Homo sapiens: one gene and its partners. The protein of the gene in region 3 purifies or fractionates together with the protein of the main gene of each other region. This does not show direct contact. Each region holds a gene or a part of one and is shown on either strand. Other genes may lie near its edges. The genes, in order: TIMM50, HERC1 and ZNF571.

The links.
Region 1: the proteins of ZNF571 (region 3) and TIMM50 purify together in Homo sapiens (co-immunoprecipitation; one large-scale study listed by IntAct). This does not show direct contact.
Region 2: the proteins of ZNF571 (region 3) and HERC1 purify together in Homo sapiens (affinity purification with mass spectrometry; 2 studies listed by BioGRID and IntAct, with this or other methods). This does not show direct contact.

What each region holds. Positions count from the first base shown.
Region 1 is NC_000019.10:39,483,791-39,487,440, reverse strand, and holds part of TIMM50 (mitochondrial import inner membrane translocase subunit TIM50), read right to left. Parts: exon of another isoform or gene 2,651-3,650; intron 2,195-2,650; exon of another isoform or gene 2,065-2,194; intron 1,898-2,064; coding exon 1,839-1,897; intron 1,754-1,838; coding exon 1,634-1,753; intron 1,255-1,633; coding exon 1,150-1,254; intron 1,045-1,149; coding exon 946-1,044; intron 1-945. UniProt on the Homo sapiens protein: Essential component of the TIM23 complex, a complex that mediates the translocation of transit peptide-containing proteins across the mitochondrial inner membrane. Has some phosphatase activity in vitro; however such activity may not be relevant in vivo.
Region 2 is NC_000015.10:63,659,432-63,663,081, forward strand, and holds part of HERC1 (probable E3 ubiquitin-protein ligase HERC1), read right to left. Parts: coding exon 3,553-3,650; intron 2,591-3,552; coding exon 2,322-2,590; intron 1,595-2,321; coding exon 1,542-1,594; intron 506-1,541; coding exon 305-505; intron 1-304. UniProt on the Homo sapiens protein: Involved in membrane trafficking via some guanine nucleotide exchange factor (GEF) activity and its ability to bind clathrin. Acts as a GEF for Arf and Rab, by exchanging bound GDP for free GTP.
Region 3 is NC_000019.10:37,591,901-37,596,191, forward strand, and holds the start of ZNF571 (zinc finger protein 571), read right to left. Parts: upstream 2,893-4,291; 5' UTR 2,841-2,892; exon of another isoform or gene 2,187-2,840; intron 1-2,186. UniProt on the Homo sapiens protein: May be involved in transcriptional regulation.

The DNA of each region.
Region 1 (3,650 bases), 1.9 Mb from region 3:
ATTAGCCAGGCATGGTGGTGTGTGCCTATAGGCCCAGCTACTCAGGAGGCTGAGGTGGGAAGATCGCTTGAGCCCAGAAGGTTGAGACTGCAGTGAGCCATGTTCATCACACCACTGCACTCCAGCCTGGGTGACAGAGCAAAACCCTGTCTCAGAAACAAAAAACAAAACAACCCCCAGGATATTGGGGAGCTAATCACATAGACTTCTAGACCCAGGGCCTAGCACACAGAGAGGTGATTAGGAAGTTCCCTGGAGAGGGAGGTGGCCACTCTCGTGTTTAACCCCTGCCCAGGTGACTGTGGTATGTTGCAGGTTTAAGAACCTCTCACTCAAGTAAACAGGTGCAGACAGATCTGCAGCCACACCCAGGGAACCACACAGACAGGCACCCAGACACAGACCCTTCAAGACCCTCGATCACAGCCCACGTATTTTGGAATTTCCAAGAGCAACACAGAACCCCCACCCCGACACGACACAGACAGAAACCAACAGACACACAGACACTTGGAGCCAGACCCACAGAGGCCCATTCGCAGATCCGGACTCCTGAATACAGCACTGGCCACAGTAACAGAGCCCGGGTCAAACAAACCCCAACCAGTCTCATATGTACAACTATAAGCAAACCTTCCCAGAAACACTAAGTTACAGACACAGCAAGATAAAACCAGCTTCTAAATCGTACGACCTTACCACTAACCCCCAACTGTCTTCTTTAGAGAGACCCCATTTCCCCCCACTCCCACACCCAGATTCCAGGGAACAAAGAAGGGTGCAGATGTCTGGCCAAGGCTAGAGGCAGGCATGTGCCTGCCAGCAGGAATCGAATCTGGGCAGAACCATAAGCCAGGTGAGGCTAGGGTCAGAGCTGGGCCCTCCTTCCCTCAGGTGGTGCCAACTCCGCCAAATCCCAGAGGCCCACCCATGAACCCACGGCACCTTTACATGGTGTCCATCCATGTATCTTGTGGCGTCCCGGAATAGGCGGTAGGAGATGAAGCCATGGGGGTCCACACTATCAATGAGTGGAAACGCAGTCTGGGGGTGGGAAGGGAGCGAGAAAAGGTCAGGCTGAGCCCTGGTCCTCCAGATCTCTACGCCTCCCACCACACCAATATTCCCTCCCCTGCCCCAGAGCCTCACCATGCCAGTCTCTGACGTAAAGATGACAATTTCATATAAAGGGGCAAGCTGCTGGAACAAGGTCTCGATGCCTGGGCGCTTCTTAAACCTCCAGCCAGTGGCCAGCTGGGAAGACAGTGAGGACAGTGAAACACCAAGACCCAGAGGTCCTCAGAGTCCCCAAGAGGACAAAGATCCAGCCTGGGGGATTCCCAGAACAGAGTTCTCTCCCTCTGTCTCTGTGGCTCTTGGAGGTCAAGAAGTTCATAGGCTGTGACTGCGGGTCTGGCTCCTTTGTGGCACTTATAGCGTGCCTGGGCACACCTACACTACCCTACAGAGTGGGTGTTAGCATGACTGCCTTCTCCCAGCTGAAGAAAGCGAGGCAATGACAGGTGACATCTCCTCCCCAAGATCACATAGCACAGCCAGGGCTGAAAGTCCACCTCATCACAACCCCACTGCCCAGGTCTATCCCCAACCCACTGGGTTTCCCGGGACACACCGACCACTCAGGATGCAAGAGGACGCCGGTGAGCTCCAAAACGAGCGTGTAGGGTGGCTGGTAGTACGGTTCCTGCAGAGGGTCTGGGAGAAGGCAAGGGCTGGTGGGCTCGATGATCATCTGTGGGAGAGGGACAGGATGGGGGCGCTCAGACAAGGAGGCCAGGGCTGGAGACATGGGGACTGAGCCCAGGGCTTCTGCTCACCTGTCTATAATCTTTGAAATATTTGTATGTCCGGCGCAACTGCTGTACCAGAATTGGATCTAGGAGAACACCAGGCACAAAGAGATTCCACAATAAGCCGCTGTTCAACCTCCCAGACAAACCAGGGGTTTCTTATCTACCAGATACAAACAGGTCTGCATATCTGCCTGGTTTGAACCAACTCATTTCTAGGTCCAAAGATAGAAGGCAATGACATACCGCCAGATAGGAACACAGATTTATTTACTTGCCCTATTTTAAGCTGATACTTATATCCACATACTACCCCAGGTATGAAACAGAATGCTTATTACATTGGCCCACTTAAAACCCACATACAAGGCCGGGCACGGTGGCTCACGCCTGTAATCCCAGCACTTTGGGAGGCCGAGGCAGACGGATCACGAGGTCAGATCAAGACCATCCTGGCCAACATGGTGAAACTCTGTCTCTACTAAAACAGTAAAAAAAAAAAAAAATTAGCCGGGCGTGGTGGCATGTGCCTGTAGTCCCAGCTACCTGGGAGGCTGAGGCAAGAGAATCACTTGAACCCGGGAGGTGGAGGTTGCAGCGAGCCGAGATTGCACCACTGCACTCCAGCGTGGCAACAGAGTAAGACTCCGTCTCAGAAAAAAAAAAAACAAAACAAAACCCACATACATGTAAATCTGCTGACATTACACCAGGGTATACATACTTTTTTAATAGAGACAGGGTCTTGCTCTGTTGACCGGGCTGGTCTTGAACTCCTGGGCTCAAGTGATCCTCCCGCCTTGGCCTCCCAAAGTGTTGGGATTACAGGCGTGAGCCACCACACCTAATTTATGCCACTGTATTTTGCCCACTTTGAATCACTAGGCTTCCAGATCTGCCCACTTTAATCCAGTGTGCTGAATCTAAACCACAATAAATATATAAACACATCCATATACCATAAAACAGTGGTTCAGAACTAGGAACAATTTTGTCTATCTGCCTACCCCTGGGAAATCTGGCAATGCCGGGAGATATAACCGGTTATCGCAATACTGGCATCTAGTAGGCAGATGCCCAGGATGCTGCAAAAATCCTTCAATGCACAGGGCAGTCCTCTATAATTATCTGGTCCAAAGCGTCAATAGGGCCAAGGGTGAAAAACCCTGGTTTAAGTGAATATATTGACTCCAGTTTACTTTCTCATTTTAACTTATTTTTTTTTAGAGATGGAGACTCACTCTGTCATCCAGGCTAGAGTGCAGTGGCGGGATCACAGCTCACTGCAGCCTGTAACTTCCAGGCTCAAGTGATCCTCCCACCTCAGCCTCCTGAGTAGCTGGGACCACAGGCACAGGCCACCACTCCCGGCTAATGAATCCAGTATAAAACAGTAAACTTACAAGGCTACCTACTTTAATACAGTATTTTTAGTGCAATACATGGGCCTGCCTCTTAAAAAAAACACAATATATTGGGCCAGGAGTGGTGGCTCAAGCCTGTAATCCCAGCACTTTGGGAGGCTGAGGCGAGTGACCACCTGAAGTCAGGAGTTCGAGACCAGCCTGACCAACATGGTGAAACCCTGTCTCTACTAAAACTATAAAAATTAGCTGAGTGTGGTGGTGTGCGCCTGTACTCCCAGCTACTCGGGAGGCTGAGGCACGAGAAATGCTTGAACCCAGGAGGTGGAGGTTGCAGTGAGCCAAAATTGCATCACTGCACTCCAGCCTAGGCAACAGAGCAAGACTATGTCTCAAAAAAAAATAAAAATAAAAATAAACCACAATATTGAAACCAGTTAGGCTAGTAAACATATACACTTTAAAACTGCAGATG
Region 2 (3,650 bases), on a different chromosome or scaffold from region 3:
TTAATAGAAATGGGTCTCACCATGTTGCCCAGCCTGGTCTTGAACTGCTGGCCTCAAGCGACCTTCTTTCTTCAGCCTTCCAAAGTGCTGGGATTACGAGCATAAGCCACCAAGCCCAGCCAAAACTTAATACCACATTATACCTTCAAAATGTTAAAACAACTGGCTAAAGAGACTTGTTGGGGTGAGATAATGTTGAACCATTAGTCTTATTTACTTTTACTTTATTATTATTATTTACCTATCTAAGAAACAAATTATAGTAGATGCTATAAAATCAATGCAAATCAGGATTTCAGTTTACCTATTTGCATCAGAGTCTCTTCCATACTGTTGGTGGCTGTGACCATTGCTACTGATGCTCCCAGTGGATCGCTGTCAGGGAACTGAACTGGTTCTGGTACAATGCGCCGGTCATTTAAACCAAGCGGTCCAGCAAGTAATTCAAATTCTTCTTCACCAGTTAGCTTTTCATCTTCATCAACATCCAACATGTCCCAGTCTTCTGGAATTTAAATAAATAAATGTATAGTATGTGAATTTAAATATTACATAAATCTGCTGGCAATGGTTGTTCTGAAAATACATCTAAAATGCAGATGAGCAGCCAGATGCGATGGCTCACGCCTGTAATCCCAACACTCTGGGAGGCCGAGGCGACTGGATCACATGAGGTCAGGAATTTGAGACCAGCCTGGCCAACATGATGAAACCCCATCCCCACCAAAAAATACAAAAATTAGCCAGGCATGGTGGTGTGTGCCTGTAATCCCAGCTACTCAGGAGGCTGAGACCGGAGAATTGCTTGAACCTGGGAGGCCGTGGCTGCAGTAAGCTGAGATCACGCCACAGCACTACAGCCTGGACAACAGAGTGAGACTCCATCTCAAAGAAATAAAAACAATAAATAAATAAATAAATACATACATACATAAAATGCAGATGGACTGAAAGTCCAGTGACCACATAATGAACTATGGCACCATCTCCTGAAAACTTAACCAAACTGCACTCCTGAAGCATAAGTGAGACTCTCAGGGAAAGGGAGTCAATGTAGTTAAATAAGTTGACAGCAATAGCAAATGCTACAGCTGGTAATAGAGGTTTAAACTAATTAAAAATATTGTCATGGGTCCAACAAAGAGTTCTTAGCTGTCTGTAATCATTAGGGAATGAGTTATTTCAAGAAAATGAGTGCTCCAGAAAAATCAATGCTCATCTCTATTTATTTTTTACTTTCCACAATTAGGGTGGAAATTCAAAATATACCACATCCTTTCCCTACTTTGAAAAAAAAATACACCTAATAGAAATTAATATTCTGTGGTAAAGTTGGTCTTTGAAACCACGTTCTTTTCCTTTGACTTTTAAACCAGCGTTGTTGCTATTAAATTCCCTTGAGTTTTTAAGGGAAAATTTAAGTTAACATGTACACAAATACAAACACACACACACACGAAGGTGAATTTTAGTAACAGATGTTAAGCAGAGAGGATATATAAAAAAACATGTAAAATAAAGAAGCTCTCAAAACAAACTACCTTCATACACACTGTCTTGCTTGCCAATTAGATCTGGAGCTTGTCCCTTGTACCTGCACCAAACATGAAGAACATTGCATTTTTATATAAAACAGTTAGTACCCCAAGATGCAAATTAAGTCATTAGAACATTTTAAGAGGTCATTAATAAAGCAGCACAAAATAAAAAAGTATGTTTCATGTTATAGGCTAACATAATAAAAACTGCTGGTATGTAGGTACACACATGCTTACAAAATCAATGATTATTTTACCAAACTACTGGGGAGATTTCTGGGTTACCTAAAACAACTCTTTTAACCAAATTCTATTCCATAAAGCCTTAAAGATTTTAATAGTTGACAATTAAGGGCAACAAACCTACTCTCTAGGGATTAAGGATGTAAAGAGATAATATTTTTATGGAACTCGTTTAATCAAAAGTCTGTTTTTTTCATCAGGAAAAAGATCTTAATTAAAATGCCAGAAATATGGTAGAAAATACAAATGAAAAGAATTGAGTAGAAGCCTCCTGAGGGTTAAGGCAAGGGTCCTGACCATTACTTGCCAACAAGTCAGAGGTTAACACAGTCAAACTCCAGGGAAGGATATGTTGCTATGCCATTATTCCTGGGAACATGAATTTCTGAAACCCCTCCATCCCTTCTGCCCAAAGTGTAAGAATCACGGGATTTCAGGGAAGGTTAAATGTAACTCCTCACGTGAAAAATCTACAGTTCCCAAGACTTAAGGTATGAGGTATCTTCAGGAGGTCTGGATATCTACACAATTTCAAGGTACCTTTCAGAACTTGTTGACTTAGATTTGGTCTTCATGGCTAAGTACTTCTCCCTGCAGGTGCCACATAACAGGTAGTACGGATTTCCACTCCCACATTCACCGCCAAACCAGCCATCCACATAGGAACCATTGCTGCGATAGCCCTGGCGGTTTGCACTGCGCCCACAGCCTGGATGGTTTCTCTTCATGTGCTGATTGAAGCTGACGACGCTGCATTCACACAGTTCACACACCACCACTTCTTCCCTGTCTTCAGACTCACAAACATGCTGCACAAAAGGATTTCATACCAAATGATTAGTCAATTTAACATAAAACCAAGAAGTACCAAGTAGATTATTTATATTAAATTACTTTATTACATATGCTAGAATATTTCCAACATGTTCATTAATGCTAAATAAAAAATTTCTTTCAAATCAGAATTCAGATAACACAATCGGAAGGTGTTCTTTGCCCTCTCTCACTCTAATAAGTTATATCAATAATACAAGTAACTGAGTATCCTACTGAGAAGAGTTAATGAACATGACAATCTGTCCTATCTCAAAATGAGGCTTTTTAAAAAAAAAACTCCACTAGTGAAAAGAACTAATTTTCATCTGGTCACAAAATGCATACCTACTTTATGAATTTTTGGGAAAAATCATTATGATTCACTTATTTATATAGCAGATTCTCTTTCCTGTAGGACTTACATCTATGAGCTTTTTGGTCTCCCTACTACAAAAATGTAATGCTAACCAATGTATATACAAATCCACCATGTACCTTGCCCCTAAATGGAGGTATTTACAAGATCTAGGTGAGCACTGGTTCCTAGAATAAGGCATTACATTGATTAAATGGAACCTATGAAGGAGAAGAACATGCATTCAGATAGCAATGTGAGCACAGCAGCCATGTTATATAACCTGTCAACGTCTACTGGAACCTGATGCTTGTTTTGTAATTTATCTTTGACATCAGAATCAAATATTACCACAGTATGACTCTATTCATCTTGTCTGGGGAGAGAAACAATAAAATCCCACAGAGAAAGCAAGAGAGACTTTTCCTTATTAGTTTGTAGGTATCAAAGTAACCTCATAACTTTAAATCCCCAAACCTCAGGATGAGATAAAAGACTTTTTAGAGTGTTTCAACTCTAGGCAAGGCTGCTGTTAGTAAGCTATATGAACAGGAGGGCAGGAAAATAAGTCAGAGCAGCCCCCGCTGCAGTCACACACACCCAGGTAGGCCAATCCAGTACCTCTGGGATCCACATTCCCAGAATATCATTGTCACTGGTCAGGTCTTGTCCAAACATAGCTTCCATCGCCTCATCAT
Region 3 (4,291 bases):
AGAACTGTAACTAATGAATACAGGAGGAATTGAGAGAATTTTTTTTTAATCACCATATATAACTGTTAATGAATGGGCCAGGCGCGGTGCCTCACACTTGTAATCCCAGCACTTTGGGAAGCTGAGGTGGGTGGATTACTCGAGGTCAGGAGTTGCAGACCAGCCTGGGCAACATGGTGAAACCCCGTCTCTACTAAAAATACAAAAATTAGCCAGGTGTGGTGGCACATGCCTGTAATCCCAGCTACTCGGGAGGTTGAGGCAGAAGAACCTTTTGAACCTGGGAGGTGGATGCTGCAGTGAGCTGAGATCACACCACTACACTCCAGCCTGGGCGACAGAGTGAGGAAAAAAAAATAAAGAATGGATCTTGGTATCAATCATAAGTGGACGTTATAACCTTTAGGTCAGTGCTTCTCAATCCTTCTAAAATTTTTCACGGTCATATCCCTAGGAACCTTTTTAGATACTTTTCTCTAATAGCCACCACTCTCATGAAATTTTATTACCATAGATATACTGTATATATGTTTATGTACTGTGGCCCTTTGGAGGACCACAGATCATTGTAATACCTATGAGTTTTTGTCCTCTTCCTTCTCAAAAACCAAGTTTCACCCACTTGGAAGGTGATATCCTCCACCCTCATTGAGAATGCATGCTTTAGGTGAAAAAAAGGAAAGGATTAAATGGACAGCATTTAAACACATCAATATGACATCACTGAAAGTGGGACATCAGACTGTAAGGGCCTCATGATGTGATGTAATAGGAAGTACACAGCACCAACTATGAATTAAAGGTGATTTAGGGAAAATCTGATCCAAATTCCATCAAACCTCTAGATCTAACTGCCTGTTTACAGAAATATGAAGGAACGGAAAACAAATTATAAGACAGTACAAAGAAGCAATTAGCTAAAAGCAGTATACAGAATATTCTACGGGACAGATGATCTAGTTTTTCTACAAATCAACAGCACCAATTAAACCAAAACAAAACACAGGAGGGAAACTATCATGCATTAAGTAAGTTTAACAGGTTTGGCCACCAAATGCAATGTGTGGACTCTATCTGGATCCAGATTTGAACACACCTATTGTAAAAATATGTCTTTGAAATAATTGGGAAAATCTGAATATGGGGGTATACAAGATTATGAAATAACCACCACGCTGTTACACCAACATAAGAAACAAATTTATTGTTTTAAACTTATTGTTAGTTTTTTTTTTTATGTTGGTATAACAGCATCATGGTTATTTTAAAATATAATGTCCTTTTTGGTAATATATGCTTATAAGAGGATAAAATACAATTTTGAAATACTATAGGAAAAAACGGGGAAGGATTGATACAAAGGTATTTACAAATGTTTTTAATTACAGCTAGGTGTTGAACATGTTGGGGTTCGTATTATTCTTTAGCCTGCTTGAAAACATCCACAATAAAGTTAAAATTTTAAAACTCTTCAAATTTCCCCCAGAAAGTACAGTTATTTTTCATCAAAACCTTAGACCAGGCCAGGCGCGGTGGCTCACGCCTGTAATCCCAGCACTCTGGGAGGCCCAGGCGGGTGGATCACGAGGTCAGGAGATCGAGACCATCCTGGCTAACACGGTGAAACCTCGTCTCTACTAAAAACACAAAAAATTAGCCGGGCATGGTGGCGGGCGCCTGTAGTCCCAGCTACTCGGGAGGCTTAGGCAGGAGAATGGCGTGAACCCGGAAGGCGGAGCTTGCAGTGAGCCGAGACCGCACCACCGCACTCCAGCCAGGGCGACACAGCGAGAATCCGTCTCAAAAAGCAAACAAACAAACAAAAAAATCTTAGACCAGAAAGGACTGCTGTATCATTGGGTGGAAAGGAGAGGTGTAGTGTGGCTGGGGAGTAGAGCTAAACTGATGATCCCATCCCCGCAGCATCATTTATGGGGTGCCTAAGGACCAGTCACTAGCATGGCTGGTTCTTCCTTAGGAAGATGTTGCTGGAGGTAGAAAACGTTTCGGAAAGGAAGAAATTTGAGGTTAGAAAGAAAACAGGAACTTCACACAAGACTTTCAGAAGTGCGATATTCTTTTCCTCTGGGTGCCTCTCTTGGAAAACGCAGAACCGAGAAAAGAAATAAGCATCATAGAACATCAGAGCTCTCGGAGCAGACGAAACAATTTAGGATAACACCAACCTCTAGAAAGGGATTAGTCTTCCCCACAGGGCTGTCAAGCTAGAATAGGACATCTTTAACAGTGGTCTTCTTCCTAAGACACTTCCAGGGGTAAAGCCTCACCATCAGGGAAACTTCAAAAAGAGCCTCTTACTCTGCAAAGAAACTGCAGCAGCTGTAACCGCACGATTCTCAGCTGGCTTAATGATGTCCGTGTCACACGAGGAGTACTGCGGCCCGGGAGGGGCCAAGCGCTAGGAGCATTAACAGGCGGCAGGTGAGCCCACCCCGCGGCCGCACAAGCGCACACGCACACGTCCAGGGCGGAGGAACACTACTAGTAACACCCGCCTCCTTCTAGCCTCCCTATCCCAAAGTTATGGTGCCGATTTTGTCCGCGGCAGGGGCTCCAGGGGCACACTCATAAATTCGGTGCGGAGGAACACAACTAGCAGCACCACACCCCCGCCACTGCCAGAACCAAAGTGACGGTGCCGACACCCCTCCGCAAGCGCAAGGCCGACTTCCATAAGTAATTAGCCAGAGCACCGTCCCGTTCCTGTCAGCACCGAGCCCCAGCCAGGACACCGGTATTCCCAGCACCATACAAGAACTACTTTTTCGATGAAGCAACCCAAAAGCTGCGAGCGGTTCCCGGTGAGGCCGCCCACTCACCTGGCCGGCGCAGACAAGCTCCGTGCGTCAAGACATAACAGCGTAAGTGTACGACGTTGCGCAGCGACGCGGGGGCCTTCGGGAAATGTAGTCTACAACTGGAAACCGGCCGGATCGTGTCTGCGCAGGCCCAGCAGCTAAGATCGGGTCCGGCGCTCCAGAACAGAACGATCCCTGAGGCTCCCTTGCTCGAACTGTGGGACTTACCCTACTATGGTCCGAGCCTACCCTATTTCATTATACTCAAGTAACGCCCCAGAAATTCCAGAGAATCTCACACAAAGAGGTTGAGTCTTGCCGTGGTGCCTTCAGGGGAATGTCATCCCGGGCTAGAAGAGCTGCAAAAGGCTGTCAGGTAAGGTCTGGATTTCTCTCTGACAGCTCTGGCCGTGACGCAGTGGCCACGATACCGGGTTGCTGCTCAACGGGGTTCGGAAGTGTGACGCATTCTTTGCGGCCATGTGTGTGTGTGTGCGTGTGTGTGTGGGTCTGTGCGCGCGCGTGTCCGAGTGTCCTCTGTGGGTGCAGAGTGGGTAGTGGCCATGCCTGTGTGATGTGCGTCAGATTATGCTTGAGGCTATTAGTGGCGCATTTAGTATTGTGTGCGGAAGGGTCTTGGGAATGGTTTGATTATAGCTTTGAGGGTGACTGATGTCTGTTTAATCAGATTCAGCCTGCGACTGAGTATCTTATAACCTGTAAGAAATTGATTTTTCTTTGCATGGTCATGAATTTAAAATAGATTCCCATGAAATTATATAAATGTAGTGAATGATTCATTGAGAGTTCGCCTGTGGCAGTGAATGTGGGGAAAGAAGTGTGTGAGCATAATATGGTGAGAATGAGCACGATTGTGTGCAGCGCTGTATTATAGTGATATCTCCTGGCTTCAGTTTTCTCACCTGTAAAGTGAGGGTGTCAGTCGTGTAACGCTTTGGAACAATGCTTTTTAATAGGAATTTCTGCAAAACTGAGTTCCATTTTTTATATCTGTGCTCTCCAATATAGTAGCCACTAGCTACATATGGCTATTGAGAAATTGAAATGTGGCTGGTTTGACTGAGGAACGAATTTTTTAAATTGTGTTCAATTTTAATAAATCTAAATGTAAACAGCTATATATGGCTAATAGTCTTCCTATTGAACAGTACAACCTGGAGCATTAATTTGCCTTCAAGATTTGAAGGGGGTAAAAACTTAATTCATCTAGCAAATATTTGAAAATGAAATTCTTAAAACTTCCTTAAATTTTTTTTTAAATTTGAGATGATTGTAGATTCATATGAGGTTGTAAGAAATAATAGAGACATTGTGTGTTATCTTCAACTTAGTCTTCTCCAATGACAACATCTTGCAGGACTGTAGTATAATATGACAACCAGGATGTTGACATTGATAGTCAAGATAGATCATTTCCATCACCTCGAGGATCTGTTGTGTTGCCCTTTTAT